Linked DNA regions of Homo sapiens. The protein of the gene in region 4 interacts with the protein of the main gene of each other region in a pairwise test. Each region holds a gene or a part of one and is shown on either strand. Other genes may lie near its edges.

Region 1 (8,967 bases), on a different chromosome or scaffold from region 4:
GCCAGATTATCTGGTCTTAGAGGCAATGTTAAGGATATCGATTTTTTTCTACATGAGATGGAAATGACTGAAATATTTAGATTGGGGCATGACATGATCTGATTTACATTTTTGTAAGATTGCTCCAGCTGAGGGAAGAATAGATGGGAGATATCGAGTGAGCAGCAGAAAAAACATTCAGGAAGAACAGTAGAAGTAGAGGCAATACATACTGGTGGTTTGTAATAAGCTGGTAGTATCAGAGATGGTCAGATAGACTGTATTTCATACATAGCAACAGCTATACTTTTGATGGGTTGAATGTAGAATGCAAGGGAAAGAATGGAATCAAAAGCTGTTCTTAAGATATTCATATGAACTGAGTAAACTGAGTTACTCAAGGAAGGGGAACAGCTAAGAGAGGTATCAGTTTAGGGGTATAAGGGTTAGAAATTCTCATTTTATCATAATTTAAGATGCCTGCTAGGCATCTAAATTTTGAGATGTTAGGTAGGCAACTGGGTTACACAAGACTGAAGCTCAGTGAAGAGACATGACAGCTGGCATATTAATGGCATTAGAGCCAGGGGTCTGAATTAGACTTCTTATAAAGATAGCATATATATACAGAAGAATAAAGAGTACCAATCAAAAAGGACAATAGAAGATAAAATAATTGTAAATGCCTTGTGGCTATCTGCTGTCATCAATAGCTGGGGTCAGCAGTGCAACTTGCAGCAAGAACTTGAAAATTAAAGCAATAATACTGCTATCAGGTCTAAACTTTAAAATCAACAAGTAATGGGCCAGAGCAGAGATATGCAATGCCAAAGGCTGTGACTTCACTGTAATCTGTGTTATGGGCTGTGTTGTATGCCTGCAAAATTCATCTGCTGAAGTACCTCAGAATGTAACCATATTTGGAGAAAAGGTCTTTAAAGAGGTAAGTAAGTTAAAATGTGGTCATTACGGTGGGCCCTAATCTAATATGAACGATGTCCTTATAAGAAGAGGAAATTTGGAAACAGACATGTGTGCACACAGAGGAAAGACCATGTGAAGACAGAGGTAGAAGATATGGCCATCTGCAAGCCAAGGAAAGAAGCCTCTGAGGAAACCAACTCTACCTGCACCCTGATCTTGGACTTCCAGACTCCACAGCTGTGAAAAAATACATTTTCATTGTTCAAATTACACAATCTGTAGTATTAGTTACAGTAACATTAACAAACTAATATCGTCTGATTAAATGTAATAATAATACAACAAAGAAAAAAGTGTGTCAATCACAAAAGAGTTTTGTCACCTAAGGAAGCATAGAAAAAATAAAATATGCAGGAATTTGAAACTAAATAGGTAAGGGCAAAAAGTTGGAACAAATGCTATGTCAAAGGAGAGGTGGATAAGTCCCAAATACAAACATATTCATGAGTTGGTCATCAAAGAGGCTGATAGAATAAAATACTGAAGTAGGAGGGGACTGAAGCAGACAAGAGAGATTAAAAAGACAAAGTGAATATATGACAGGAAATGTGCAAAAATAGAGCAAGGTGTGATTAAGGTGAGGCAAGGTTTCCACTAATTTTGTAAATGGTAGATTGAAGTTTCCACTACATTCTACATTTTTTACATAACTCAAGGTCATAAGCAGAAAGGTTAGTTCAGACAGAAAGTGTCACTTCTTGTGTCAGAGACTGCCAGTGGCCTCCCAATATCCATTCTCCCACTTTCAGTTAATAATAATAACCTTGATTTTTATGGTTGGCACATTTCTATCCCTGAGATTACAAGAAGTCTATGACATTTCCAGGAGGTCTTCTTTGCCCTTCCTTCATTACCTTCCTGGAATGTAGATATGATGGTTGAAGTTCCAAAATCCATCTTAAGCATCTTGGACCACGAAGTAAAGTCTACACTCCAGGGGTGAGCCACTGCACCCGGCCTGATTCCATAATTTTTCTCAATTGTTTCCTCTGAGTAGGATCTCATTTTCTCTGTCATTTGCTTTCCTACATATTAAAGCTCCCTCATTTTTTTTTTTAATTTATTTACTTTTATTATTTTTTAGTAGAGATGGGGTCTTGCTCTGTTACCCAGGCTAGAGTGCAGTGCTTCAATCACACCTCACTGCAGCCTCAAACCCCTGAGCTCTAATGATCCTCCCGCCTCAGCCTCTAGAGTAACTGGGACTACAGGCATATCACCACGCCCAGCTAGCTTCCTTGTTCTTCCATTGTTACTGGAAAGGGGTCCTGATCCAGACCCCAACAGAGGGTTCTTCAACCTTGTGCAAGAAAGAATTTGGGGCAAGTCCATAGAGTAAAGTGAAAGCAAGTTTATGAAGAAAGTAAAGGAATAAAGAATGGCTGCTCCATAGGCAGAGCAGCCCCGAGGGCTGCTGGTTGGCTATTTTTATGGTTTTTTCTTGATTATATGCTAAACAAGGGGTGGATTATTCATGAGTTTTAGGGGAAATTGGTGGGCTATTCCTGGAACTGAGGGTTCCTTCCCTTTTCAGACCATATAGGGTAACTTCCTGATGTTGCCATGGCATTTGTAAACTGTCATGGCGCTGGCAGGAGTGTCTTTTAGCATGCTAATGCATTATAATTAGCATATCATGAGCAGTGAGGATGACCAGAGGTCACTTTAATCACCACGTTGATTTTAGTGGGTTTTGGCTGGCTTTTTTACCACATTCTTTTATCAGCAAGGTCTTTGTGACCTGTACCTTGTGCTGACCTATCTCATCCTGTGACTTAGAATGCCTAACTTCCTGGGGATGCAGCCCAGTAGGTCTCAGCCTTATTTTACCCAGCCCCTATTCAAGATGGAGTCGCTCCAGTTCAAAAGCCTCTGACACCATTATTCCTATACTTCTATTAGGGAATAAAGGCAATTTACATATCCCATCTCTCACTCTACTTATTACCAGCATTTCCTCAACTTGTTTAGGATACTTTTTTCTTTCACTGCCCTATGTATTTCTTTTGAAGCTGTGTGTTCAGATGAAAAGGACAATTTTCCCAGGTACTGAGAGGTGATTCCCCCACCACCGTCCCCACAGTGGTCTAAAAGAAACCTTGTGTTTTTTTCCTTACAAATCTCCTCATTGATGATTTCTTGATTTTCCCCCCATTTCTATTTGATCTTTTCTCTCTTGACATTCCAATGTCATTTATTTTATTTTATCTATTTATTTTTTGAGATGGAGTCTTGCTCCGTCACCCAGCGTAGAGTGCAGTGGCACGATCTCCACTCACTGCAACCTCCGCCTCCTGGGTTCAAGTGATTCTCCTGCCTCAGCCTCCCATGTAGCTGGGACTACAGGCCTGCGCCACCACGCCCAGCTAATTTTTTTGTATTTTTAGTAGAGATGGGGTTTCACCATGTTGGCCAGGCTGCTCTGGAACTCCTGACCTCAAGTGATCTGCCCACCTTGGCCTCCCAAAGTGCTGGGATTACAGGTGTGAGCCACCCCGCCCAGCCCCCAATGTCATTTATTTATATTACACATTTTTTTAATTTATCATTCTCTGCCTTTTATAATGATCATTTTATTCACTCATCCAACCAACATATGAAGAGCTACTATCAATCCCATTTTAAGATGGGGAAACAGAGTTCAGAGATGTTGGATTCCTTGCTCAAAGACAGACAAGTTTAAGGGAATGGAATGGAAACTTGAGCCCAAGTTGTAAGTCATAATCTGTGTTATTTCCACTATCCCATCTTTTTTTTTTGAGACAAAGTTTCGCTCTTGTTGCCCAGGCTGGAGTGCAATGGTGCAATCTCGGCTCACTGCAACCTCCGCCTCCCGGGTTCAAGCGATTCTTCTGCCTCAGCCCCCCGAGTAGCTGGGATTATAGGTACCTGCAACCACACCGAGCTAATTTTTTGTATATTTAGTGGAGACAGGGTTTCACCATGTTGACCAGGCTGGTCTTGAACTTCTGACCTCAGGTGATCCACCCGCCTCGGCCTCCCAAAGTGCTGGGATTACAGGCGTGAGCCACTGTGCTCAGCCTCCACTATTCCATCTTAACTTCTCTCAGAGTGAGCAAATAAGAGGTCTTCCTGCCGAATCTGCCCCTATCTCCTTCTGTTTGGTAAACATAGTAGCTGCTGCTTTGGTTTTTTACTCTAAATTTAAATGTCTTTACATTGGCCTTGCACTTTCTAGTCCTCTAAGATCCCCACCAATCCCTGTGGTCTAACTCCAGGTTGCTTCACAAGGTTGTCACCTTCCTGGCTCTTTAGGCTTTTGTGTTTTTGACCCCTGAAGTTTCATTCAAGTTCAGTTTGGAATGTCTCATTCCAAAAGTCAGGAAGACTGGCCTAAAGTTATACCTAAGCCATGCGTTAACCTTATTGTAAGAGTTAAAACATTAAAAAGATTGAATTTTCCCAGTTGCCAAAAGAATGAGACATTCCCCCACCCCCCTTTCTTAAAACATTTTCTTGAGCAAATTGTAATTATAATCCGTGTGTAGTGTGTGTGTGTGTGTGTATCTTTTTAAAAGCTAAATAAGCCTCTTGTCAGATAAAACCCAGGAATTGTTTTCGTCAGGTCCCGGGAGCCAACTCCTTGAAATTTAAGTATCAAGGTAGACAGTGCCCCTATGTTCCAGGCTCGCGGGAGTTACCCGAAGCGCCTTGCTCCAAGCCGTAAGTACCTGTTTGTCACAGAGATAACGTTTTATTTTTCCTTTGGATAAAGGCAATTAACCAACACAGGCGGCCACTCCAACGGTGAACTACCAAAAATTGAATACCAAACCATGTTAACTCGTCTTACATGAGAAGATGCGTGTGCTTTGGCTACATAAAATGTGAGATTTTTGTCTCTCTTTGCAATCTCATTAGTGGATTGCCTGTAACACCCATTCCGGTCTGGTTCGATGCTTACAGAATAATACACCTTTTTTTTCTTTTCTACATTTGTGGAGATTTTCTAGGATGGCAGGAGATTTTTTTAAAATTTTTTTTCTCGACAATATCAATTTATTTAGGTCCCTTACTTTTACTAGCCACCCCCTTCCCACTTGCTTCCAATGGCAAATTAGAATGGTAACTTGCCCCTTGCTCACCTCATGCTTGGCTTTGGGAACCGGTGAGAAACTGCAATCCATTGGCGGTAGGAACCACGATTCCCAGCATTCCCAGTGCTCCGAGTCCTTCGGGCTTCCTTTTCCGGGTCTCGAGGCTGCTGAAACCGAAACCGCTGTGCTGTGGGCGCAGCGCCGAGATTGATTCACCTTCACCTGTGCTGCACTCCAGCTGACCCAAGTAGGAAGCCAGACGAGCTGTAAAACATGAACGGAAGAGTGGATTATTTGGTCACTGAGGAAGAGATCAATCTTACCAGAGGGCCCTCAGGTATGTGCGGAAAGGGTCATATCTGACAGTAGGGGATTAGAGGGTGTAATTGCAGACACCTCTGCTGCTGAGCCGGATTCACCTGGCCTCGGGGCGGGCAGGCCACAACCTAGAGGTTTCGTGCAACGCTTCGGGGTGCTTAGAGAAAATATATTGAAATCCATCATTAGCCAGATACGGGTCTGAGGAATCCACCTCAAAATCCAGTTGGATGAACACAAATATATATAGTCAAGAAGGGGTTCTTTGTGCAAATCGTGCTAGAAAAGCCTTTTTAAAAGCCTGCTTTTTTAGCCTGCTTATCGTGGATACCACATCCTTCTTTCCGTTGCCTGTTCTATCCCTCCCCCTATGAGGGACCGTTTAGTAAAATGGGAGCATAAACGGTGTGGACTCTGAATGCATAGCCGTTTTCCTGCAGCTAGGATCCCTCCCTCGCTCCTTTGATTTCTGGGAACTTCATTTACAATGTCAACTAGAATGTTAAAGCAGGAAGAGCCCTTAGAAATCTTTTATTACACAGGTTCCCAAACTTGGTTCCGCCACAAAATTACCCAGGGCTTTAAAAAAAAAAAAAAAAAAGAAAATAAAAAGTTAAATCTTATCTCCCATCTGCAGGGATTTGGATTTAATACAGATTTATTTTATTTATTTATTTATTTTTTATGAACACCTCATGTGATTTTGAGCAGCCAAACTGCTATCCTCTTCCCCCACTGTGGCTCTTCATTAAACCGGGCTCTTGACATTACTACATTCTGCCTGCTTTCGACTTTGTTTACTTTCCTTTACAACTATTTAGTTGATCAATTAAGAGCTCTTTAGCTTTGGAATTACAGTATCTGGGTCTAAATCTTGTATCTAACCTCTTACTGATTCTTGATACTTATTGGCTAACTTAACTGATGTAAGCCTTAGTTTATCATCTCTAAAATGGGGATGGTTATAAATATACTTCATAGTGTTGTGAGAATGAAATGAGTTAATCCATGTAAAATGTTTACAACATTGCTTGACCTATGGTAAACAGTATGTGTTTCCTACTATTGTTACTGTTAATGGATAAATAGCTAAACTGACACAGTAAATCCTACTAATACTGTATTCCAAGAGTCTCTAATAAATCATCAAGTACTCTGAGCTCCATCTCTGAAATGTTCCTGAAATTCTTTCACTCCTGTTTCCCTTGCCACTACCTAGGACAGTCCATCACCTTTTCTCATCTGCAGTTCTGCAGTAGCTTAATCATGGATAGATTATTCTTTATAAAATATAACTTTCAGAATTATCCATACTTTGTGTCTTCTTTTCTTTTCTTTCTTTCTTTTTCTTTTCTTTTTTTTTTTTTTGAGACAGGGTCTCACTCTGTTGCCCAGGCTAGAGTGCAGTGGCACGATCTCAGCCCACTGCAGCCTCTCCCTCTTAGGCTCAAGCAATCCTCCCACCTCAGCCTCCTGAGTAACCGATACCATGGGTGTGCACTGCCACGCCCGGCTAATTTTTTTGTATTTTTGGTAGAGACGATGTTTCACTACGTTGCCCAGGCTGGTCTCATTTAAACTCCTGAGTTTAAATGATCCACCCACCTCTGCCTCCCAAAGTGCTGGGATTACGGGTGTGAGCCACTGTGCCCTGCCTTCCTTTCTATTATTAAAAATTGGAAGTTGGTTTTACTTATCGGAATATAACTCATCACTAATACCATTATTAATATTTTTTTTTTTTTAGAGACGAGGTCTCACTTTGTTGCCCAGGCTGGTCTTGAACTCCTGAACTCAGGCAGTCCTCCTGCCTTGGCCTTCCAAAGTGCTGGGATTACAGTCATGAGCCATCATGCCTGGCCTATCACTAATCTTAATGGATTAGTGTCATGCTCCATATGTGCGCCTAAACTTTTGTCAAAGGCTCATTTGGTATGCCCAAGTTTCTTGGATTCATTTTTTTGCTATTTTATATAAATGTATCCTTCACTCACTGTTAATATTTATTGACTTTTGAGGCTAACATAGAAAGTTACTTTTCAATCAAAATCTGTTTTTTTGTACTTTTCATCCATTGATAACTTGTTCTCTTAGGACCAATTAAAACAATGCTAGTTCCTTTTCTGATTGCTGTGCAAGTATTTATTTAAAGGCTCTAGTTGTTCTGCTCCTGTTTTGCCTCTTTCTTCTTTATCCTAAATATCTTCGGTTATTTTACTACCTCTTGAGATGTTTGAGATTTGATTCTTGCCTTTTGCTTAAGAATTTAATGTACTTTGACATAGTCCTTTTGCTCTGGCATCCAAAGTATTTTCAGATCTCCTGTCTAAAGCAGAGCAGGACCCTGATATTATCTCTTGTTCTAAAGATGAAATCTTTTTAAAATTCAGTATAATATCACTTCATCTTTTTTGGCATTTGTAGTCATAAATTTCCTAGTGTTAGTATTTTCCCAAAACATTGGCATTCGGACAAGCTTCAAGGACTAATTAAAGGGAATAATTATATCTAGCTAATATATTTCACCCAAAAATGGTTTGATTTCTGTATCACATATTTATTACAAATGAATGTATTTATTCACTCAGTGGCTTCCTAAATTTTCATAAGCATTTCCATGTATTAATTATATAAGTCAGTGAACTTACTGGGAGAGTAAAGCCTCAAGTTTAGGAATGAACTTGGGTGAAAACAGTCATTTGAAATTTGGTTGGTTCAGTTAACAAAGAAAGGTTTCAAGTTCATGTTAATCACTTACCAGAACTGGTTTCCTAGTATGTGATACTCTTCTTCTCAGGGTCTAATTCAGCTTTTCTTCATGGTATCATCATGAAGATATATAGGGAGGAGACTGTCTCAAAATACCACTAGAAACTAATCACCACTAGAAACTTCCACATAATTTTGATGGTCCCATAAGGATCTTTCTATCTATGGAAGAAATATGAAAATCCTCTAAGTATGCATTTCTTTTGTAGGCAGCATTGCCCACTCTTTGTGTTTGTATAGCTGTGTACTCAGGAACCTGATGTTTAATCAGATCCGAGAACATGTGTACCATTCCCCCTTTGTGTTCTGTCAGGGACAAGAATTGTGGATATTTCCAGTGTTTGGGCCCATATTATAAGGCAGTCGAACCTGTTCCTGACTGATCTGCTTACTGCAAGGGAAGTAATGAAATCTTGGGGAAATTATGACAACAGAGTGAAGAGGCAAAAGAAGCTTGACATGTATTAGGTTGGTGCAAAAGTACAATTACTTTCTTTTGTTCTTCTTTTTTTTGAGACGCGTCTCACTCTGTCACCAGGGTGGAGTGCAGTGGCACGATCTTGTCTCACTGCAACCTCTGCCTCCCAGGTTCAAGCAATTCACCTGCCTCAGCCTCCTGTGTAGCTGGGATTACAGGCATTTGCCACCATGCCCGGGTAATTTTTGTATTTTTAGTAGAGACAGGGTTTCACCACGTTGACCAGGCTGGTCTTAAACTCCTGACCTCAAGTGATCCACCTGCCTTGGCCTCCCAAAGTTTTGGGATTACAGGCGTGAGCCACCCCGCCCAGCCATAAGTACCACTACTTTCAATGGCAGAACCGCAATTACTTTTGCACCAACCTAATAGCATGGAATC
Region 2 (6,396 bases), on a different chromosome or scaffold from region 4:
TGATAATTCTGGAGACATGGAGTTACTTGCTGCATCTATGGGATGTCCTTTTCTTAAAATTTTAATTAGTTGTCTTAGTCCATAGGTCTACTTTTTTAACAGAAAAGGTTGAAATTAGTTTTATAAAGATTAGCTTATGAGATATACATATATATACACACACACACACACACACACATTTTTTTTTTCCTTTGAGATGGAATCTTGCCTGTCACCCAGGCTGGAGTACAATGGCGCAATCTTGGCTCACTGCAACCTCTGCCTCCCAGGTTCAGACGATTCTCCTGCCCCAGCTTCCGGAGTAGCTGGGATTACAGGCGCCCGCCACCATGCCCGGCTAATTTTTGTATTTTTAGTAGAGACAGGGTTTCACCATGTTGGCCAGGCTGGTCTCGAACTCCTGACCTCGTGATCCGCCCACCTTGGCCTCCCAAAGTGCTGGGATTACAGGCATGAGCCACCACGCCCGGCTGCTTAAGAGATATTTCTAGGCTCTATGAGGTCAACTACTGCATCTTGATTACCACTGTATCTCAAGCACCTGGCCCAGAGCCTGGTGCATAGATGATGCTTGTTAAATATTAGTAGAATAAATAAATTTATGTCTGAAATTTAATATCTGCAATAATATATTGTTGATTCTATCTCAAGAATAATACAAGCCAAACCTGTTGAACCAGCACTTAAAGTTCGTTTTAAAAAGCAATTGTGAACCAGGAGCAGTGGCGCATACCTGTAGTCCCAGCTACTTGGGAAGCTGAGACAGGAGGATTGCTTGAGCCCAGGAGTTCCAGGCTGTAGTGTGTTATGATTGTGCCTGTGAATAGCCACTCAACTCCAGCCTGGGCAACATAGCGAGACCTCATCTCTAAAGACAGATACAGTCAATGAATGGATGGACAGAATGATGGAACTGTGGTGAATATAGTTTAATAATAGTGTGTGGTACATATCAAAATTGCTAAGAGTAAATTTCAGATGTTCTCACCACAAAATATGATAAATATTTGAGATGACAGATGTTAGTTTTATTTAATTAGTCCACATTTTATTCATGAATCATAATGTCACTTTATACCCTATAAATATATATAATTATAAATTGTTGATTTACAATAAATTTTTTAAAAAATCAATTGCGTACATCACTGATATTCTTAAACCCTTATTTGGAAGCTTCCCATGAATAACTTAAAGTTGCTGTGTTCTCTAGATGTCCCCAGTGTCCTAGACAGCACCAGTTAAGAACAGTGAGTGTTTTTTAACTGGGACTTCTTCCTGACCCTGAATTTTACTTGACTTAGTTTTTCCTCTTTCTCTCTTCTAATTCACAGAGCAGTAAAGAAGCCCTTTCAGAGGTGAACGCCACGGGAGTGGCCATGCTTTTCTCTGCCGGGACATTTCTTTATGTTGCCACAGTACATGTCCTCCCTGAGGTGGGCGGAATAGGGCACAGCCACAAGCCCGATGCCACGGGAGGGAGAGGCCTCAGCCGCCTGGAAGTGGCAGCCCTGGTTCTGGGTTGCCTCATCCCTCTCATCCTGTCAGTAGGACACCAGCATTAAATGTTCAAGGTCCAGCCTTGGTCCAGGGCCGTTTGCCATCCAGTGAGAACAGCCGGCACGTGACAGCTACTCACTTCCTCAGTCTCTTGTCTCACCTTGCGCATCTCTACATGTATTCCTAGAGTCCAGAGGGGAGGTGAGGTTAAAACCTGAGTAATGGAAAAGCTTTTAGAGTAGAAACACATTTACGTTGCAGTTAGCTATAGACATCCCATTGTGTTATCTTTTAAAAGGCCCTTGACATTTTGCGTTTTAATATTTCTCTTAACCCTATTCTCAGGGAAGATGGAATTTAGTTTTAAGGAAAAGAGGAGAACTTCATACTCACAATGAAATAGTGATTATGAAAATACAGTGTTCTGTAATTAAGCTATGTCTCTTTCTTCTTAGTTTAGAGGCTCTGCTACTTTATCCATTGATTTTTAACATGGTTCCCACCATGTAAGACTGGTGCTTTAGCATCTATGCCACATGCGTTGATGGAAGGTCATAGCACCCACTCACTTAGATGCTAAAGGTGATTCTAGTTAATCTGGGATTAGGGTCAGGAAAATGATAGCAAGACACATTGAAAGCTCTCTTTATACTCAAAAGAGATATCCATTGAAAAGGGATGTCTAGAGGGATTTAAACAGCTCCTTTGGCACGTGCCTCTCTGAATCCAGCCTGCCATTCCATCAAATGGAGCAGGAGAGGTGGGAGGAGCTTCTAAAGAGGTGACTGGTATTTTGTAGCATTCCTTGTCAAGTTCTCCTTTGCAGAATACCTGTCTCCACATTCCTAGAGAGGAGCCAAGTTCTAGTAGTTTCAGTTCTAGGCTTTCCTTCAAGAACAGTCAGATCACAAAGTGTCTTTGGAAATTAAGGGATATTAAATTTTAAGTGATTTTTGGATGGTTATTGATATCTTTGTAGTAGCTTTTTTTAAAAGACTACCAAAATGTATGGTTGTCCTTTTTTTTTGTTTTTTTTTTTTTTAATTATTTCTCTTAGCAGATCAGCAATCCCTCTAGGGACCTAAATACTAGGTCAGCTTTGGCGACACTGTGTCTTCTCACATAACCACCTGTAGCAAGATGGATCATAAATGAGAAGTGTTTGCCTATTGATTTAAAGCTTATTGGAATCATGTCTCTTGTCTCTTCGTCTTTTCTTTGCTTTTCTTCTAACTTTTCCCTCTAGCCTCTCCTCGCCACAATTTGCTGCTTACTGCTGGTGTTAATATTTGTGTGGGATGAATTCTTATCAGGACAACCACTTCTCGAACTGTAATAATGAAGATAATAATATCTTTATTCTTTATCCCCCTTCAAAGAAATTACCTTTGTGTCAAATGCCGCTTTGTTGAGCCCTTAAAATACCACCTCCTCATGTGTAAATTGACACAATCACTAATCTGGTAATTTAAACAATTGAGATAGCAAAAGTGTTTAACAGACTAGGATAATTTTTTTTTCATATTTGCCAAAATTTTTGTAAACCCTGTCTTGTCAAATAAGTGTATAATATTGTATTATTAATTTATTTTTACTTTCTATACCATTTCAAAACACATTACACTAAGGGGGAACCAAGACTAGTTTCTTCAGGGCAGTGGACGTAGTAGTTTGTAAAAACGTTTTCTATGACGCATAAGCTAGCATGCCTATGATTTATTTCCTTCATGAATTTGTCACTGGATCAGCAGCTGTGGAAATAAAGCTTGTGAGCCCTCTGCTGGCCACAGTGAGGAAAGTAGCACAAATAGGATACAGTTGTATGTAGTCATTGGCAACAATTGCATACAATTTTACTACCAAGAGAAGGTATAGTATGGAAAGTCCAAATGACTTCCTTGATTGGATGTTAACAGCTGACTGGTGTGAGACTTGAGGTTTCATCTAGTCCTTCAAAACTATATGGTTGCCTAGATTCTCTCTGGAAACTGACTTTGTCAAATAAATAGCAGATTGTAGTGTCTGGTTTGGTTTGGACAGTAGTGCTTTCTATCATATTGTTGTGTGCAATGGTAATTTGTTCTACTGGCCAAAGCCTCTTTCAGCAGTGCCTTGCCATCATGCTTAAAAGTTTGGCTAGTATATCTTGCTGGATGGAGCCTTGAACTCCGGCAAGGATTGAACCATCTGACTTCCAAATTTGCCTTCCCCTCTGGACCTCACTATTAACAAGCAAACCTTTCAGGGCCCTCTTAGCTCTCAGAAGCTATGTATGGGCTTTCCCAGATTTTAAAGCTGCTGCCTCGAGAACTACTCATTTCTCTCCTGGTCAGCAGACAGAAATAGCCATACTAATCTCATAGGGCTCAAATGCATCTTCAGGCAGCAGGGAACCAAGCAGCGTGGCACAGGCCTTCTTGACTGGAGGAAGAGCTTGCTGGCATGGTGGGCAGTATTCCAGGAGAGGCCATGTCCGTGTTCACTTCTTGGCACATTTCAGTTCCGTTTTCCTCTTGTTTAAAACTGCCTCTTTAGATGTGGATGCCTTAATGCTGTAACACATTTGAAAACATTGGCAATACTTAAGTTGCTGCCATGATTACAGATGGAATTATTGGCTACCAAAGAGACGCAATTGATGATGAGAAGCATGATTCTTGCTTCCATATAACCAAAGTTAATCTTAATTGCAATTTGACTCCGTTTCCTTGGTAGGGATAGACTTTCTTCAGATTCCAAGTGCTCTCTTAAATGGCAAATTAAGTTAAAGAATACTACTGCTCCATTCCCCTCACTTATTCTCCAGTTAATTGCTTGTCAGTTCCATTTCAAGAAAGCAGTGATGTTCCAGGTTTGATTCAGTTTTCCTGTGCACACTATTGCCAAATTTTTTTTTAGCAAAGATTCTGCACTGGAACGTAGACAGTTGGAAACAGTACTACCTACCTAGAGGTTATGTGTTTTCTCTTTCTCCCCGCTTTCACCTCTTTCTTTCCCAATTCAAAACAGCCAAGTGAGCCCTGTTCTGGTATTTTGAATCATTAGAGAAAAGAAAGGGAGTGGCTGTTTTGAGTTGTCCTTTCTTTGCAGAAAGGAGAAAATGTGATTGTGTTTTTTTTTTACCAGCCTACTTCTAAGTGTCACTGCCTGGTTTTTCTCTTTTTCAAGGATTAGAACTAAGAGGACACACCAGCATCGGAGTGTATTAAGCCCCTGAAACACATGGTAGCTAGGGACTGAACACAGGAACCGTATGACAGCAGCACAAACCCCCAAAGGATGTTCCTGCCTTGTGGGCCCCTGAGCCCCTTGGGAGACTGAGAATCATGACCAGATTCATCCAGAACTGCTGCAGTGTTAAGTGAAAATCCTCTGTAGTTGTTCTGCAGAGGAACCTTCCTTCCATTAGAAAATTTCTGCTCAATACAGAATGGTCCACATCACCCAAAGTGCACTGTTGGAGATGCTGTGAAATTAAAACCTCTTTGTACCTGAGACATCTAGATTCACCTCAGGAGGCCTGAAGGAAATGTGTAACTTGTGGGAAAGAACTAGACAACCATTTAGGAATTCTCTAGATATACTCAGCCTAACCCAGTGGCTTAACACAAGGAGATTGGCTTTGATCTTTTTTTCTTGTGGCATCTTCCAGCAAGTTAGAAGTCTCATGGGATAAGACTGCAGTTCCCCTGGTTCAATAGCTGGAACAGTGATTTTAAATGTCCCTTTTTCTGGATCCCTTGTAAACATGAAATCATTCCATGGATGGCTGCCTTATAATTTTGTCTCTTTCCACTTTAATTGTGAATGGTTAAAAAAATGCTGTTTTCTGATATTAAATTTTTATTAGTGCATACCTTAATCTGAGTGGCTCATTACTTATCCTTTTGGCAGTTTGTTTGATGACCAGAATTGACCTGTATTTGAACATCAGAAAAGAGAATGAAAAGTTGTGATGGATGGTAGAAAGATGTACCTACCACAGGCACATCCTTTAGGGAAGGGAGGGAGAAAGGAGAGAGGGGAAATTAAGGACTTGATAGACCAATCTGCCCTGAAAGACACAAATGCATTGATAATTGTTTTTGCCTTGCTGTTGTTAGCAAATATTATTTACGAAGGTAGCTCTCTCTACTCTCAGAAAAGAGAAAGAGGCAACAGATCCAAACCACAGTGGATTCATTTCATAGGGCAGAGTTGTTATATGAGTAGATAGATGCTATGAACAACTGACCCTGGAAATTAAAGAGATTTGATTAGAAACGTGACGTGTGAATTTGATAAATGTTTTTCTCCCTCTGTGGACTTATGGTTAGTCATTAGATTTCATTAAATACTACTGGCCCACTTTGTGCTGGTTTTCTATATGTATAGTTACATGTATAGCTAGTTACAAAGATTGTGCTCAGGGCAGGCATGGTGGCTCACGCTTGTAATCCCAGCACTTTGGGAGGCCGAAGTGGGTAGATCACCTGAGGTCAGGAGTTCGAGACCACCCTGGCCAACATGGTGAAACCCCGTCTCTACTCAAAATAGAAAAATTAGCCAGGTGTGGTAGGGGGGTACCTGTAAATCCCAGCTACTCGGGAGGCTTCCCTGAGATCAAAACACACACACACCTGGGCTTAGCCAAAATAGCCACCAATCCTTTTCTGTTTGGTGTCATTTTTATTTTATTTTTTCCTGCTCACATGATCTGTTTTTTGTTTGTTTGTTTTTTGAGACAGAGTCTTGCTCTGTAGCCCAGGCTGGAGTGCAGTGGTGTGATCTCAGCTCACTGCAAGCTCCACCTCCCAGGTTCACGCCATTCTTCTGCCTCAGCCTCCCGAGTAGCTGGGACTACAGGTGCCCACCACCACGCCCAGCTAATTTTTTGTATTTTTAGTAGAGACGGGG
Region 3 (8,197 bases), on a different chromosome or scaffold from region 4:
TGGTGGTGTGTGCCTGTAATCCGAGCTACTTGGGAGGCCGAGGCAGGAGAATCACTTGAACCTGGGAGGCAGAGGTTGCGATGAGCCAAGATTGTGCCACTGCATTCCAGCCTGGGCAACAGGAGCAAAACTGCATCTCAAAAAAAAAAAAAAGAAAGAAAGAAAATTAGAATTGTGTATTTCACTGTAAAATTTGAAATTCAGCTTTAACTCCTTGGAAAGGAAAGAGATGAAAAACTTGACCTAGACTGGGTGCGGTGGCTCACGCCTGTAATCCCAGCACTTTGGGAGACCAAGGCGGGTGGATCACCTGAGGTCAGGAGTTCGAGACCAGCCTGGCTAACATTGTGAAACCCCGTCTCTACTAAAAATACAAAAATTAGCCTTGCAAAAAGTAGCCTGTAATCCCAGCTACTCGGGAGGCTGAGCAAGGAGAATTGCTTGAACCTGGGAGGCAGAGGTTTCAGTGAGCCAAGATCATGCCATTGCACTCCAGCCTGGGCGACAAGAGCAAAACTTCATCTCAAAGAAAAAAAAATTCTATCAGAGTGAACAATAAGTAGGATGCTAGCACATACCTGTAATCTCAGCTACTTGGGAGGCTGAGGCAGGAAGTTAATACTTGATGAGCCTAAGTTTTTGGTGTCTTTGGATGCTGCTTGTCGATCTAAGGGGTTTCCAAACGCTTCTTTTTTGGTAAAATTGGGATTATGACTAGGAATCTGTTTTTTGGAGTTTCCCAGGTGATCCTTGTTTGGGGTCCTTGTCTAAGGCACAGGCTGGAAAGAGGAGGGAGTGGACTGGCAGGGAAGATAGAGCAGTAAGCGAATAGAATACCTGGGGAAAGGGACGCCAGAAGAGTGATTGTTGTCTGGTGAACTGTGCTGTCAGTGTGTATGTCAGAAGCCAACAAAGTGGATATTCTCTTCACTCAGCTTAGGGAAAAAATTAATTTTTGTTTCACAGATAGATTCGTTTCCTTCCCAGGAGTATTATAGGCCTAATTACTGTCATAGTTCTCAGTAACTTTAAAAAGGCTGTGGGGAAGAATGGCATAACAGACTAGTATCTTGTACCCAGCCTGCCTTTTTCTTATTCTATTTTTTTTTTTTTTTTTTTTTTTTTTTTTTTTGAGACAGTCTTGCTCTGTCACCCAGGCTGGAGTGTGGTGGCACAATCTCAGCTCACTGCAACCTCCGCCTCCTGGGTTCAAGCGATTCTCCAGCCTCAGTCTCCTGAGTAGCTGGGATTACAGGCGTATGCCACCATGCCTGGCTAATTTTTGTATTTTTAGTAGAGATGAGGTTTCACTATGTTGGCCGGGCTGGTCTCCTACTCCTGACCTCAGGTGATCCGTCCACCTTGGCCTCCCAAAGTGCTGGGGTTATAGGCATGAGTCGCTGCGCCCGGCTTTTTTATTTTTTATTTTTTATTTTTTTGAAACAGAGTCTGGCTCTTTCACCCAGGCTGGAGTACAGTGATCTGATCTGAGCTCACTGCAATCTCTGCCTCTGGGGTTCAAGCAGTTCTCCTGCCTCAGCCTTCCAAGTAACTGGGACTACAGGCATGCACCACCATGCCTGGCTAATTTTTGTACTTTTGGTAGAGATGGGGTTTCGCCATGTTGGCCACGCTGGTCTCCAGCTCCTGACCTCAAGCGAACCACCCTCCTTGGCCTCCCAAAGTGCTAGTATTACAGGCGTGAGCCACAGCACCCGGCCTTTTTTTTTTTTTTTTCCTTAGAGTCTTGCTCTGTCACCAGGGCTGGAGTGCAGTGGCGCCGTCTCGGCTCACTGCAACCTCTGCCTCCTGGGTTCAAGTGATTCTCCTTCCTCAGCCTCCCTAGTAGCTGGGATTACAGGTGTGTGCCACCACACCCAGTTAATTTTTGTATTTTTAGTAGAGACGGGGTTTCACCATGCTGGCCAGGCTGGTCTCAAACTCCTGACCTCAAGTGGTCCACCCACTTTGGCCTCCCAATTAGAATTAGAGGTGGAGCGACCGTGCCCGGCTAAGGGCCTACTATTTTTTTTTTTTTTTTTTGAGACAGAGTTTCACTCTTGTCACCCAGGCTGGAGTGCAGTGGTGTGACCTTGGTTCACTGCAACTTCCACCTCCCAGGTTTAAGCGATTCTCCTGCCTCAGCCTCTGGAGAAGCTGGGATTATAGGCGTCTGCCACCACGCCTGGCTAATTTTTTGTATTTTTAGTAGAGACGGGGTTTCACCATGTTAGTCAGGCTGGTCTCAAACTTCTGATGTCAGGTGATCCACCTACCTCGGCCTCCCAAAGCATTGGGATTACAGGCGTGAGCCACCGCGCCCGGCCAGGCCTCGTATTTTTGCTTTTGCTCATGTTTTCATGTCTGAGATAGAGGGCCTACTATTAAAGCACTGTGCTGAGGCTGCAAGAAGGTACTAGTGTGATTAAAACAATCTGGTCCGGGCGCGGTGGCTCGCACCTGTAATCCCAGCACTTTGGGAGGCGGAGGCGGGCGGATCACGAGGTCAGGAGATCGAGACCATGCTGGCTAACACGGTGAAACCCCGTCTCTACTAAAAAATACAAAAAAAATTAGCCGGGCATGGTGGCGGGCGCCTGTAGTCCCGGCTACTCGGGAGGCTGAGGCAGGAGAATGGCGGGAACCCGGGAGGCGGAGCTTGCAGTAAGCAGAGATCGCGCCACTGCGCTCCAGCCTGGGAGACAGAGCGAGACTCCGTCTCAAAAAAAAAAAAAAAAAGAAAAAAATAAAACAATCTGGCATTATAATGCCATCCTGATTTTAGTTAATCTAGTTGACTGGCTGGCCTCATAAGTAGCTGTGATGATCATAATTTTTATGCGAAACACCTGTCATTGAGCATACAGGTGTACTGAAAGAATTGGGTGGAACAGGGTATTTGAAATCAGAATTGTTCTGGAAAGTCGGGTACATAAAGCTCTATCTTTAGCACAGTTGTCTGTATTGCACAATTAATATTTATAGAATGGTACACCTTATGTTATCTTTTTATTTTTCCACCTAACTCTCTCTCTAGATTGAAAGGTACTTGACGTGCAGAGCAAGATCTTATCTTTCTTTGTAGTCACAGTACTCAAGAGGGTGATAAATGTTTGTTGATGATAATGTAATGTCACCTGTCCAAGTGTAGCCATCATCTTCAGTAGTTACTTGATCTGCTGTTGTGTCTGGCAAGACTGCTATGTGCTGCTGCAGAGGAGCCATTGTCACCTTGAACTATCTCTGTGGCAGTCTGGAGGAGGGCAGGAGGGAGAAGGGAAGGAATAAATGAGCAAAGCTGAGTGTGGATAGTAGTGTTTGACGGCAGATGAAAAAGCAAACTTGGTGAAGTGTGGCCTGGGTGGTCATCTAACTTCTACCTAGAAGACATTAAACCTTTACTCTCTTCTTTTTATGTAGGAAGGCAGAGGGAAAGTCAGGCCTTCGGTTGGCTTGGTAATAGCAGGTATCCCAGTAATTAGAAAATAACTTAAAAAACTCCATTCCTCTACCATATACTTGAGAATTTGTCAATCTCAGCAAAATTTTCAAATGTCTGTGTTCAGTGTCATATTTGTCCTGCTCTGTAAGACTTTTTGTGTTTATAAAAAGGCAAGTGGACCCAGAAGGGGAAAAATATGCTGTTCTGAGAAACTAGCTGCTGTAGGTTATGCTTTTCTGTCTTTGCTTGTGGCTCTTCTGGTTATTTGAGAAAGGCAAAAAAACCCAAAGTCTTTTTTCTACTCTGTTCCCACAGTCACTCAACACAACACTTCTGATACCAGATATATGGGAGTTGTTTCCCCATACACCAAGCAATTCTCTAGTAGACACACCGGTGCGGTGTCCTCTAAGTCAGTTAAATTCTGATACTCTATCTGGAGATAGCGTCAGATCCCACCAATTGAGGGCTCAGTCCCACAAAACTGTCCCAACTTGAGGCACTAGTCACAAGTAGTAAATTGTCACCTATACTTCTGACCTACTAGCTATAAATCGAAAGTTCTGACAATCCCTCCTCGAGTTTGATTAATCTGCTAGAGTGGGTCACAGAACTCAGGAAAACACTTTACTTACATTTACCAATTTACTCTAAAGGATATTAAGAAGGATACAGATGGCTGGGCGTGCTGGTTCATGCCTGTAATCCCAGCACTTTGGGAGGCCAAGGAGGGCAGATCACCTGAGGTCAGGAGTTTGAGACCAGCCTGACCAATGTGGTGAAACCCCATTTCTAGTAAAAATACAAAAAAATTAGCCGGGTGTGGTCGTGCATGCCTGTAGTCCCAGCCACTAGGGAGGCTGAGGCAGGAAAATCGCTTGGACCCTGGGGGCAGATGTTGCAGTGAAATGAGATCACGCCACCGCACTCCATCCAGCCTGGGCGACAGACTGGAAGAAAAAAAAAGGATACAGATGAATAGCCAGATGGAAGAGATGTATAGGGTGAGGCATGTAGGAAGAGGCATGAAGCTTCTACGCCCTCTCTGGAACTTTCGTGTATTCAGCTATCCTGAAGCTAATGCAAACCCTGGTGTGTGTGTGTGTGTGTGTGTGTGTGTGTGTGTGTGTGTGTGTGTGTGTGTGTGTGTGTGTGTTTATGGAGGCTTCATTACAAAGGCATAATTGAATACGTTATTGGCCACTGGTGATCAACTCAACCTTTAGACCTTCTCCCGTCCCCTGAGGTTAAGGGGGTAGGGCTGAAAGTTCCCACCCTCTAATCACATGGTTGGTTCCCCAGGCAATCAGCCCCCATCTAGGAGCCCACCAAGAGTTACTTACTTACAACAAAAGATGCTCCTATTACCCAGGAAATTCCAAGGGATTTAGGAAATTACAAAAGTTTTAGGAGCTCTGTGTCAGGAACTGAGGTTAAAGACCAATATCAGAATGAAGGATTCTCCTAGTGCCCCCATCTACAAAGGTTTTAGGAGCTCTGTGCCAGGAACCTAGGGTGCAGATCAAATATATCTATAAATCTTTTTGTTTGTTTGTGTTTTGAGACAGAGTCTTGCTGCGACACCCAGGCTGGAGTGCAATGGCGCTATCTCGGCTCACTGCAACCTCCGCTTCCCGGATTCAAGCGATTCTCCTGCCTCAGCCTCCCGAGTAGGTGGGACTACAGGTGTGCGCCACTATACCTGGTTAATTTTTGTATTTTTAGTAGAGACGGGGTTTCACCATATTAACCAGGCTGGTCTTGAACTCCTGACCTCAAGTGATCTGCCCACCTCAGCCTCCTGAAGTGCTGGGATTACAGGCATGAGCCGCTGCATCCAGCCTCAAATTTATCTCTGTATCTTCTTCTAAATTACAGTATCACACCCGTGCATATGCCCAAAAATTTTTTTTTTTTTTTTTTTGAGACGGAGTCTTGCTCTGTCGCCCAGGCTGGAGTGCAGTGGTGCGATCTCGGCTCACTGCAGGCTCCGCCTCCCAGGTTCACGCCATTCTCCTGCCTCAGCCTCCCGAGTAGCTGGGACTACAGGCTCCCGCCACCATGCCCGGCTAATTTTTTGTATTTTTAGTAGAGACGGGGTTTCACCGTGTTAGCCAAGATGGTCTCAATCTCCTGACCTCATGATCCACCCACCTTGGCCTCCCAAAGTGCTGGGATTACAGGCGTGAGCCACTGCACCCGGCCTCATATGCCCAAATTTTAAAGGAGGCACCACATTCAAGTCCAAATGCCTAAAGGTAGAAGGATCAAGAAACAGTAGTATGAGGCCATTTGAGAAGTATATATAGTTATCCCTCAGTATCTGTGGAGATTAGTTCCAGGACCCCTCAAGGGTACCAAGATCCAGGATGCTCAAGTTTCTTTTCTTTTCTTTTTTTTTTTTTTTTTTGAGACGGAGTCTTGCACTGTCACCCAGGCTGGAGTGCAGTGGTACGATTTCGGCTCACTGCAATCTCCACCTCCCGGGTTCAAATGATTCTCCTGCCTCAGCCTCCCGAGTAGCTGGGATTACAGGTGTGCACCACCACGCCTGGCTGATTTTTGTATTTTTAGTAGAGGTGAGGTTTCACCATATTGGCCAGGCTGGTCTCGAACTCCTGACTTCAGGTGAGCCGCCTGCCGCGGGCTCCCAAAGTGCTGGTATTACAGGCATGAGCCACTGTGCCCAGCTTAAGTTTCTTATATAAAATGGTGTATAGAATTTGCATATAACCTATGCATATCTTCTGTATTCTTTAAATCATCTGTATTTATAATACCCAATACAGTGCTATGTAAATAGTTGTTATACTGTATCGTTTAGGTAATCATGACAAGAAAAAAAATCTGTACATGTGTAGTACATATGTAGCCATCTGTTGTTTTTTTTTTCCCTGAAGATTGATTGGTTGATTGAGACGGCATCTCACTCTGTCACCGAGGCTGGAGTGCAGTGGCGCAGTCTTGGCTCACTGCAACCTCCACCTCCTGGGTTCAAGCGATTCTCTTGCCTTAGCCTCCCGAGTAGCTGGGATTACAGGTGCCTGCCACAACCCCCGGCTAATTTTTATATTTTTAGCAGATTCCGGGTTTCACCATGTTGGCCAGGCTGATCTCGAACTCCTGACCTTAAGTGATTCACCCACCTCCACGTCCCAAAGTGCTATGATTACAGGGGTGAGCCACCATGTCAGGCCTTTTTCTGAATATTTTTAATCTGAGGTTGGTTGAATCCACTGATGCAGAGCCCATGGATATGGAGGGCTGACTGTACTGTATTGAGCTTCTAAGGTATGCAGAGTATTGGCACTGAGGGGATGTGCAAATACAACAACAAACCAAGCATAGTCTTTGTTTACTAGGAGCTGGTAGTAACTGTGGGAAGACACAAAACAGTAAAATCACTTTGTAAGGTTTATGAGAGTTTTGAGAGGCCAGGGAAGTTAAAGAGTGGAGAAATGGAGAAAATGGGAGAACTTGTACTGAACCCATTAGGACAGAGGAGGAAGGGAAGAGAAGGAAGGAGGCCAAAGAAAGAAGAAACCCTTCTTAGAGCACTCAGGGTCTTACTGAAAACTTTACCCATAAAAAGAGAATGTCACTGATAGACTCCTTTTAGAACAGGGATTGATTTTTTTGTTTTTGTTTTTGTTTTTATTTTTGTTTTTGTTTTTGAGAGAAGTCTCGCTCTTGTCCCCCAGGCTTGAGTGCAATGGCTTGATCTCGGCTCACTGCAACCTCTGCCTCCCGGGTTCAAACAATTCTCCTACCTCTGCCTCCCAGGTAGCTGGGATTAAGGCACCTGCCACCACGCCCGGCTAATTTTTGCATTTTTAGTAGAGACAAGGTTTCACCATGTTGGCCAGGCTGGTCTCGAACTCCTGACCTCAGGTGATCCACCCACCTCAGCCTCCCAAAGTGCTGGGATTACAGGCTTGAGCCACCATGCCTGGCCACAGGCAACATTTTTAAACCATACGATTGTCCTGGAGAGAGAATCTGAAGCCTTGCTCTGATTCTGAAAGGGATTTGCAACCAAAAAAGGATAAGGATTGTTCTGACAAGTACCCTTTCTTCCCATCTTCAAAAGTACACATCTCTTAATTTGTGTCTTCAAACACAAATTGTGTTCAAAAAAGGAAGTATTTGAGTAGATTAAAGACAGAAACCCTAGGACATTCCTTTGTAAACAAACAGCCTTTTACCAAACACCAACTGTCAAGGGACTTGCCTGAGTACTTGTCCAAAGGACAGCGTGTCCCCATGTGTAGGCAGTGGTCTAATCTGGTTCCTAGGAGAGGACTGCTGAGGCCACAGCAACTTAACTGGCTAGTGTGGGTGAGGCAGAAGTGTTTGAAGCTCAAGGTCTGTCAAGGACAGCTGATTAGAGTATGTCTGTCCCTAATACAGGGTTAGAGCTCAGTACCAATGCTGGGGATGAGGTGAGTTGAAGACACAGAAACTACATGGTTTTTTGGAAGGTCACGAACTTTTCAAGGAACTAGTGGGCAACTGGAAATGATATGTGAAAGAGTAGAGGGAGCTCTGGCCTAGCTGCCAGAAAACTCTGGGCAGGTCAGGTCTGGGAACAGTGGCTAATCCAGGCCCAGCTTCCCACTGTTGATTTGGACATACAGGCCTAAGATAAGAGACCGTGCCCAGAGCCACTGGTCACTTAGCACAGGTAGTGGGAAATGGTAGCCAGCAAATGTTTAATTGAATATCTTATGTCTCCTAGACCACAGCTGAGCAAAC
Region 4 (8,197 bases):
GTAGAGCCCCCCCCTTTTTACATTAATAGTGGCACTCAAAATAAAAAAATAAGATCTGTTAAAAAGTTAAACTGACTGTTCCACTAGATTTGAGCCTGCTTGATTCAAAGCCAATAGTACAAAACTGAAGGTGCCGTGTCTGATTTCACATCAACAAGTCACTGGAAATTATGTCACATTAGTTTCATAAATCATGGTCTTTGATTTTTTCTAAACAGAGCTATTACAAATTAATACAAACTTGAAACATACCCTAATTTAAACTAATAAGCTTTGGGCCCTGCTTTTTAAATTTTAAGGCATGTGTGTTTCTCTACCATAACAACATTGTACAAATTTACATTTACAATCACATGCATGATCTACAGTTAAAAAAAAAAGTTTGGATTACAGTGTTTTTAAATTGTGAATCACAATTCAGCACCTATCATGTTATAACTAATAAGGCAACAGCAGTGTTGTATACTATAATAATACTCCCTTTCCACAGTCTAGCGCAGGGGTCAGAGAGCCCAGAAATGTTAGAAATCTTATCCCTACTTATATAATCTGTATACGTTTTCTAGGGGTTTTGAATTGATGAAAGAAGTCCTACATGAATCACACTATTGTAGGCCAGACTAGTTACAGCAGCTGTTAACGAGCATTGGGGCACAACTCATATTGTGCTTACAATCAGATGACGTGGTTTGGAGGGTTTCAATTCTTTGACTTCAATCCTTCCGCAGCTTCCTTGGCTTCACATTGTTTTCCAGGGGTGAAAAGCTGTTGGTGTGTCCATTCACAGCAGCCATGGACCCATTCTGGTGGTCCTTCAGGTGGTCTTTCCTTCGGGAGGCCCCTTTCTTGTTGTAGGTCTAAAATGTGTAAGGGCAGATGAGAACCAAATGACCACAGTTTTCTTTATAGGGAACTTTACTGAGAATTGCATCCCTAACACTAGGCCTAGTTTCAAGATCAAATCTTATCAAGGAGAAACTCCTGAGGTCAAGTCCTCATTGACTAAATCTTTTGTCACTGGTTTCAATCATTCTTCCTTTTTTTTTTTGAGGCTTAGCCTGAGGTAAGTTAACTGAATCACAGGCTGCAACAGAAATACTATTTAAAATGTCACATAGAAAATTCAATTTACACTTTGCTTTGCCTTTTAGTATCTGGATGGCAGATGACAGGGGTTATGTGGCCAAATTGGTCTTTCCCACCTGGCAGCAGCTCTCTTGACACCCACATCCCTTGTTCGTCTTCAAAAGTTCCTCACTGCCTCGGCGACTATCTCAGCCTTCATGAACAAAGTGCTATGCTGCTATAAGTAGTTAGAATAAATGTGATTTCAGCTTCATCGGGTCCTATCCTTTCACCTTCCTTGTAGCTGGTGTATGTCCCACAGTGCAGCCATAAACTATGAAGCCCAGAAGTATATGACTTCCACTGAAACTCAACATGCCACACACAGGTGCTTGTGGGCACAGAAGAAGAAAGGACAAATGTCTGAGCCTCGGGACTTGCAGCCTCTGCCCTTGCTCCTGACCTCCGTGTTTTGCCCAGATCAGCAGGCCTTATGGCTACCAGGCACTGGCAACAAAGGCAGGACACATGTCATCTGGGGGGTGACGCATGGCAGGAGAATCAGCAGTGGCTGCAACGTGGTCAGGCTCCACTGGAAATTATCTGCCCTAAATGGATCTTTCTGTGAGCAAAGACCTACATCACCACATCATATGCTTAGGAATGAACCGAATCCTCACACCTGAAGACTGAATGTATAAGAAAGCTGGGACAAAAAAGCAGATCTCCATATCTGAGGACTGTGATAAAAATCTCTTCTGAAATTTCATTTGGCCATGACGTTCAGGGTAGTGAACTGAGAGATTTCTGATTGAAATCACCTCTCACGTCTCTGCTGCAGGTCAGAGGGAAGCAACATAGGGTCCTGCTGCACAGTTTTCCATTTCCCAGGGGAATCCCAAGACTTCCTCACCCAGGCTCTAGAACAGGATTCTAGTGTCTTCCAGTGAGCTGTGAGCCCCCCAGAGGCAGGGGCTGCTCTTGTCATAGTGACTCCATTAGAGGCCAGAGCCTGTCACCCAGCAAGGGCTCCACATGCCCATTAAGTAAATAGATGAGGGCCTTTGTTGGTAAAGGCCCCAGATTCCAAGTCCCAGAGAAGGGTGAGATTTACCTGAATGTAGAAGTTTGTGAAGAGAGCAATCAGGGAAATCATGTATCCAATCTGGAAATACAACCAACCAAGAGGGAATGTGCACGGCCAGATGACCCCGCAGCTGGTCTGGATGATTGTCAGCACAAACTGAAGCTAGGGGAACAGAGGGGATGCAGCTGAACAGGGACAGTGCATGGACGAGGCCCCACACCAGGCAGACTTTTTAACCAGCATCACCTAAATTTCTGAATTAACACTTACTACCCTTGCTGCAGGTACAGCAGTCACTTCATGAACACAACACATACACTATACTTATCCTAAACTCTAGGTGTGTTTGTCTTATATATATTCTTCCTCTGCCCTCCAAGCTATTTAAACTACCTTCTCCAAATTTCAAGGATACACTATAGAGACATCCAAGACTTTTTGTTTTTATTTTTTGAGAAGGAAGAGCAAGTGTGTATGTTGAAAGGGCACTGATAACATCACTGCAGGATGTGCCACCTGGCTGGACATCCTTCCAACTCCTTATCCATGGACGCTTCTGGTTTGGTGAAGGCTGATGAGTAGATTTAAACCTTTACTGGCAAACAACACTAAGTGCATTGATTAATTTTGATGAATAAACCTTGAAACGCATGTGAACTGGTTAGAGAAATGGTGGAAAGATGTTTTAAAAAGGGCTAGGCTCAGGCCGGGCGTGGTGGCTCACGCCTGTAATTCCAGCACTTTGGGAGGCCGAGGCTGGCGGATCACAAGGTCAAGAGATCAACACCATCCTGGCCAAAATGGTGAAACCCTGTCTCTACTAAAAATACAAAAATTAGCTGGGTATGGTGGCACACGCCGGTAGTCCCAGCTACTTGGGAGGCTGAGATAGGAGAATTGCTTGAACCCAGGAGGCAGAGGTTGCAGCGAACCGAGATCGCGCCACTGCACTCCAGCCTGGTGACAGAGCGAGACTCCAGCTCAACCCCTGCCCCTCCCCCCAAAAAAAGGGCTAGGCTCTGCACACTGTATTTCTAGCAGCTCCAATGTTTCTATGTAGAGTTTTTTGTTTTTAATTTTTGAGACAGGGTCTATGTTGCCCAGGGTGGCCTCAAACTCTCAGGTTCAAGAGATCCTTCTACCTCAGCCTCCCGAGTGACCGGGACTCCAAGCCATGACCCACTGTGCCTGGCTGTTTGCCTTCTCTTTTTTAAGGTTAGTACTGCAGACTGAGGAATAACTAGGAGTGGTGCTTAAAATAAATCCTGACAACCTGGGTAGGTTTAATCTTCCACCTCAAAGTACAGAGCCTAACGGGAGACCAACTTTGCCAGTCTGTTCTTTTAAATTCTGCTTCCGCCAGACCCAAAACTGTGGTATAAATCAATTTCTGCATCATTTCTCCTCAAGTATAACAAGGAGGTTAATCAACAATTTTCCTTTTTCACAGGTGGGTGAGAAAAAATTAACAAGGACCATATAGCAGCTGGCAGAGAGGTGAAAATGAAACATCAAACACTTCAGTCTCTAAGATTTTCTCAGACTTTTTTTTCAGATTGTTATTTTTAAATATTGAAAAATCATAATTGACTTGAAGGGATCTGAATCAGCTTGGTGTGTTTAGAAAAATGTGTTAATAATGCAAGGACAGGGCAAAGGGTTTAATGTCCACACCCCTCAGTCAGCTAGCTTTGGCCTATTGACTCAGTGTCATCTATAAAATAGGGACAATAATATGTGTTTTTCTTTTTGGTAGAGACAGGGCCTCACTATGTTCCCCAGGCTGGTCTTAAACTCCTGGCCTCAAGTGATCCTCCTGCCTCGACCTCCCAAAATGCTGTGATTACAGGCGTGAGCCACTGTGCCTGGCTTGGGGACAATAATATGAAATCAGGCTACTGGAACAATCTATGTAAAATCATGTACTTAGTATGAGTACCCAACATGTGCTAAACACTTAGGAAATGTCAGTGTTTAATATGAGCAGTAGTAGTATTAATTAGTTCATAGACGAATTCATGAGAGGAGAGAAAGAGGTTACCTATAATATACTGATGAATGCAGAAGGCTTAATCAAGGATGGTGAGAAGTATCAGGTGAAGTGGCCTGGCCCTGGCAGTAAACCAGGGGAGGAGCTGTTAACTGAAGCAAACAGCTGCCATCCTCACCAACAGGTGCTCCACTGCATGGGGGCTGAGGGGTCATCCATACCTGCCAAACAAATATCCTTGCTGCCTAGTAATGGGCTACACATACCCTGGACTCCATACTACTCTCCAGCTCCTTCTAAAACCCCTGGAAACATACAATTTTCATTTTGGATTTTGGACTATAATTAGAAAACACACACACATATACACACATACATGCATATGTGCTTATGTGCAAAAACTCAGAAGAGCTGAACTTGAAGTTGGCAAATTAGATTCTAGACCTCTTTGTACAATTCAACTAGCTGTATGCCCATGGTCACAGTTCACTATCAGTTCAAAACAAGAAAATTCCCTAATCTACCCACTTCAAGGAATTTAATTACATCAAATGAAAAAGGGTGGAGAAGGGGCATCTTAGATGCTATTACATAACACTAAAGCCAGGAAGAGGTCTGTATCCACCAGGAAGTAAGTCCTGGGGAAAGAGGCCAAGTCACTCACCAGCTGCCCCTGAGTGATGTACTTCTTCCACCAGAGGTATGGACGCATGGAAGGGACTGACGACAAACCATAGTAAGAGTACATGAGGACGTGGATGAAGCTATTAAGTGTGGCACCAAAATAAGCTGCAGGAACAGAGGGATTTGGGAAGGAGAATGTATTAGTGTTTTAAACAGAACAGGTGGTAAAAAAAAAAAAAATACAAGATTCTTTTTGAATCAGAAAGAGAGATGACTTCCAACGGAGCTGACAAACACTGCAACAGCAAGCAATGCATGGATGTGTAATGAGAATTCAATTTCCACTTGGGCAGGCAGCCACCAGGAGGCTCCGAGCCCAGGGGTCAGCTGTAGCTGCTAGAGGGGCATCTGACACTGAAGCCACGACGCCATCCCAGCACCTACAGGCTTTGCTGCAGATGCCCACCCACTCTCAGAGACAGCTGTTTTTCTTTACATGCACAACTGCCCAAATATGCTCTCTGAAGGCTGTGGAAGACAGCTGATGGGCAATATGCTCAAAAATGGTTGTTTCTATACATTTGCTGGGGTGTGGAGAGGTCTCTGAAGCCATCTTCTAATTATTTCCCAGGACTGCAGTGCTGAGGTCATACATTTTTATTAATAATAGAGTCAAGAGTCTAGCTCCTTAGAGATAAAAGAGCCATCTTATCACATCATTTTCAATGTTCAGTAGGACCACTAGTTCTTTTTCCAGACTCTGTCCTCCTCCCCAACAGTCAGCAACCAAACCAAGCCATCTGGCTTTTCCCTGTGCAGTTGCAGGTGCACAGCCTGGTGTTAGGGAAGTTTCTACTCCTGGCTATGATAGGAACTGGCTTTTGACTTTGGACACATCACATCCATTCCCTGGTTCAGTTTCTCATGGCCCAAGTGGAGCTGATTAAATCTGTCCTCCTGAAAGTTCTCTGAAAATTTAAAGCACTCTTCAAATGTAGGGAGGGGCTGTTTCTATTAGAAAGTTAGGTCAGTTAATCCACCATCATGAGCTCTGACAGTGGGAGGAAGAGCAGAAAGCCCCAACTCTACCCACCTTTCTGTGGTCTTAGTTTCCTCCCAAACCCAAAGGATCTGTATTTGGAAAGCTTTTTTTTTTTCCTAGCTCTGGAATTCCATGACACTGTGAATCTTAGCAGGCTCAGGTAATCAAGGGCAGTGCTATCCCAGAGAAAAAAATATCCATAAATAGACCCATAGGTTCTCAGTTAAATTCTTCAGTGTTTGGATGACGGGACTTTTGACTGAGACATTTGCTAAAACTCCCAGGCTGAATCTGAAGGTGGCAATCTCTGAAAATTATAAGAAACTTTGGACTACAAGCTTTCCAAAAACCAAGTACAACCTTAGAAAATTTATATCAAGTTTTGGTGCTCGTTATAGAAGACACCTTGATCACCATGCTTCAGGGAATATGAGGGTTGTTAGAACATGTGGAGACTTCCTAATGCATGACAGCTAAAGCTGTATTTCAAAATGAGCCTTGCTCCCTGGTACTCATGCAACAGTGTGATCCTATTTTCCTCACCTGCCCGTCTCAAACCTTCCACACCATACAGAAGGACCAGAAAGAACCTGGAAAGTTGCCCTCTAAGTCAGAGAATATTGTACCTATTCCTTAATATGTCCCCAGTGGTATCTCCCTCATCTCACCCAATCAGCACAGAAAGTTCACTTAACTAAAAAAGGGTTTTGTGTGCATAGGTACATAAACTATCATTAAAAGCAACTTGAACACAAAGCTGAAAGCCTGACCTAGACATTTACAGAAACAGCACCTTTTCTGAAAGCCTTAGTTTCAACTCTCCTCCCTGCTCACACCTGTTCCCCAAGTCCCCGTCTCTAATACTTACAGTGGCCGCAGGGGACCCAGTTCATCACAAACCACCAGATGTTCAGCATCGAGGCATGGTGGTAGACGTGCAGGACCGTGATCTGGTGGTTGTTCTTGCGCAGGATGAAGAAGAAAGTGTCCATAAATTCTATGAGTTTGGAGAAGTAGTACCACCAGAGGACACGGATAATCTAAGAGGAAAGGGTCAAAGATTTAAGGCTTATCCTCACGGCTTCTCTGGAATATCACCTCTGACATGTTTCACTAATATCCAAAAATCTGATGTCAACTCGGAGAAGCCCGAGTGCCCCAAGAGCTCTTAATGTCCATCAGTGGCTGGGAGCTATGGTCACTCTCCAAGTACCTTTAACCAAAGAACATGATTGGGTTGGGACAGCTGGAGGGGTTTGAAATGACTACAGGGAATATTTTTGAAAGGGTCCCTGACACTCTTTGAGACTAACAAAAACATGAGGCTCAAGGTTCAAAACCTTGAAGTCTGCCTATTCCCTCTGGAAGCAGCCTGCACAGCCATTAGCAAAGGAAAACCATCTGAAAAACGCTATTGATTTCAGGGACTAACATGGAGCAGCCGACCTGATAAGTGACACAGAAGAAAAGGAATCAGAACCTGCAGTGTCAGGTCTCTGCCCAATTAAACATGTCAAACAAGTGCTCTAAGGAGATGACTGCCCATGCTGAGCTGCGACTGTTGGCCTGTGATTTAAAACAAACCTCATGAGTGGAAGTCAGATTTTATTTTTAACACCACTACTCGGAAAAAAGTACTTGGATGAATGATTTTAAAAATTTAAGACATTGCTCTTATGATCCTGATTGTGTAAATATAACATACTGACTGCATGTGATTTTTCCTGCCAATTGTTAACCGGAGTTATTTTTACAGAGGGGGATGCTTTAGGTTTTATTTTATACCTTTCACATTCAAATTTTAATTTGATGTGTATATATTGCCTTTTTTATTCTTTTAAAAATATCAACAGGGATTGCCTGGGCAGTGAGGTTATGGGCCATTTTGTATTTTATACAATTTATTTTTAAAAACTCAACACTTATAATAATAAAGTTTCTGAAAAAGAGACAGTACCTTCATATCTGATTCTCCTGCGGTGCGTGTGCCCTGACAGAAGAAGTTGTATTTGCCTTCCCATACTCCTGTTACTAACTAAAAAAGAAGAAAGAGCCAGTCACCAACAGCATCTGAGCCATGTAAAGTCCTCATTGAACTTTATTAGTTGCAGAATCTGTGATAATTTACCTTGGGCTGTGCTGAGCCAAGTTTGCTCTGAGAAAAAACAATTGTAGGCAAGTGTAAACAAAAGGAAAGCTTTAATGACTTGAGTCTCAATTTCCTAAGGGGTGGGCTTAAAAGTCACTCCCAGGCTGCTGCCCTCAGAGACCTTCCTTTACCACGCTGCTTCTCTGCAGAACCCTCAGCCCGTCACCCCCTTGGTCCTAGCACAAGTGCCCAGACCAAGCCAATCACAGGCTCCCTGCTCTGCCCCACAGAAGCCTCTGG

The links.
Region 1: the proteins of ELOVL5 (region 4) and SYNJ2BP interact in binary tests that used the Homo sapiens proteins (3 or more experiments, as listed by UniProt).
Region 2: the proteins of ELOVL5 (region 4) and SLC39A9 interact in binary tests that used the Homo sapiens proteins (3 or more experiments, as listed by UniProt).
Region 3: the proteins of ELOVL5 (region 4) and HMOX2 interact in binary tests that used the Homo sapiens proteins (3 or more experiments, as listed by UniProt).

Annotation. Positions count from the first base shown.
Region 1 is NC_000014.9:70,413,291-70,422,257, reverse strand, and holds the start of SYNJ2BP (synaptojanin-2-binding protein), read left to right. Parts: upstream 1-5,167; 5' UTR 5,168-5,294; coding exon 5,295-5,358; intron 5,359-8,967. Other genes in the region: SYNJ2BP-COX16 protein, read left to right, coding at 5,295-5,358. UniProt on the Homo sapiens protein: Regulates endocytosis of activin type 2 receptor kinases through the Ral/RALBP1-dependent pathway and may be involved in suppression of activin-induced signal transduction.
Region 2 is NC_000014.9:69,457,029-69,463,424, forward strand, and holds the end of SLC39A9 (zinc transporter ZIP9), read left to right. Parts: intron 1-1,334; coding exon 1,335-1,565; 3' UTR 1,566-4,668; coding exon of another isoform or gene 4,669-4,674; 3' UTR 4,675-5,362; downstream 5,363-6,396. UniProt on the Homo sapiens protein: Transports zinc ions across cell and organelle membranes into the cytoplasm and regulates intracellular zinc homeostasis. Participates in the zinc ions efflux out of the secretory compartments.
Region 3 is NC_000016.10:4,478,627-4,486,823, forward strand, and holds part of HMOX2 (heme oxygenase 2), read left to right. Parts: intron 1-637; exon of another isoform or gene 638-935; intron 936-3,137; exon of another isoform or gene 3,138-3,253; intron 3,254-5,010; exon of another isoform or gene 5,011-5,128; intron 5,129-8,197.
Region 4 is NC_000006.12:53,268,414-53,276,610, forward strand, and holds part of ELOVL5 (very long chain fatty acid elongase 5), read right to left. Parts: intron 7,844-8,197; coding exon 7,766-7,843; intron 6,849-7,765; coding exon 6,677-6,848; intron 4,932-6,676; coding exon 4,807-4,931; intron 2,315-4,806; coding exon 2,180-2,314; intron 858-2,179; coding exon 714-857; coding exon of another isoform or gene 700-713; 3' UTR 1-699. UniProt on the Homo sapiens protein: Catalyzes the first and rate-limiting reaction of the four reactions that constitute the long-chain fatty acids elongation cycle.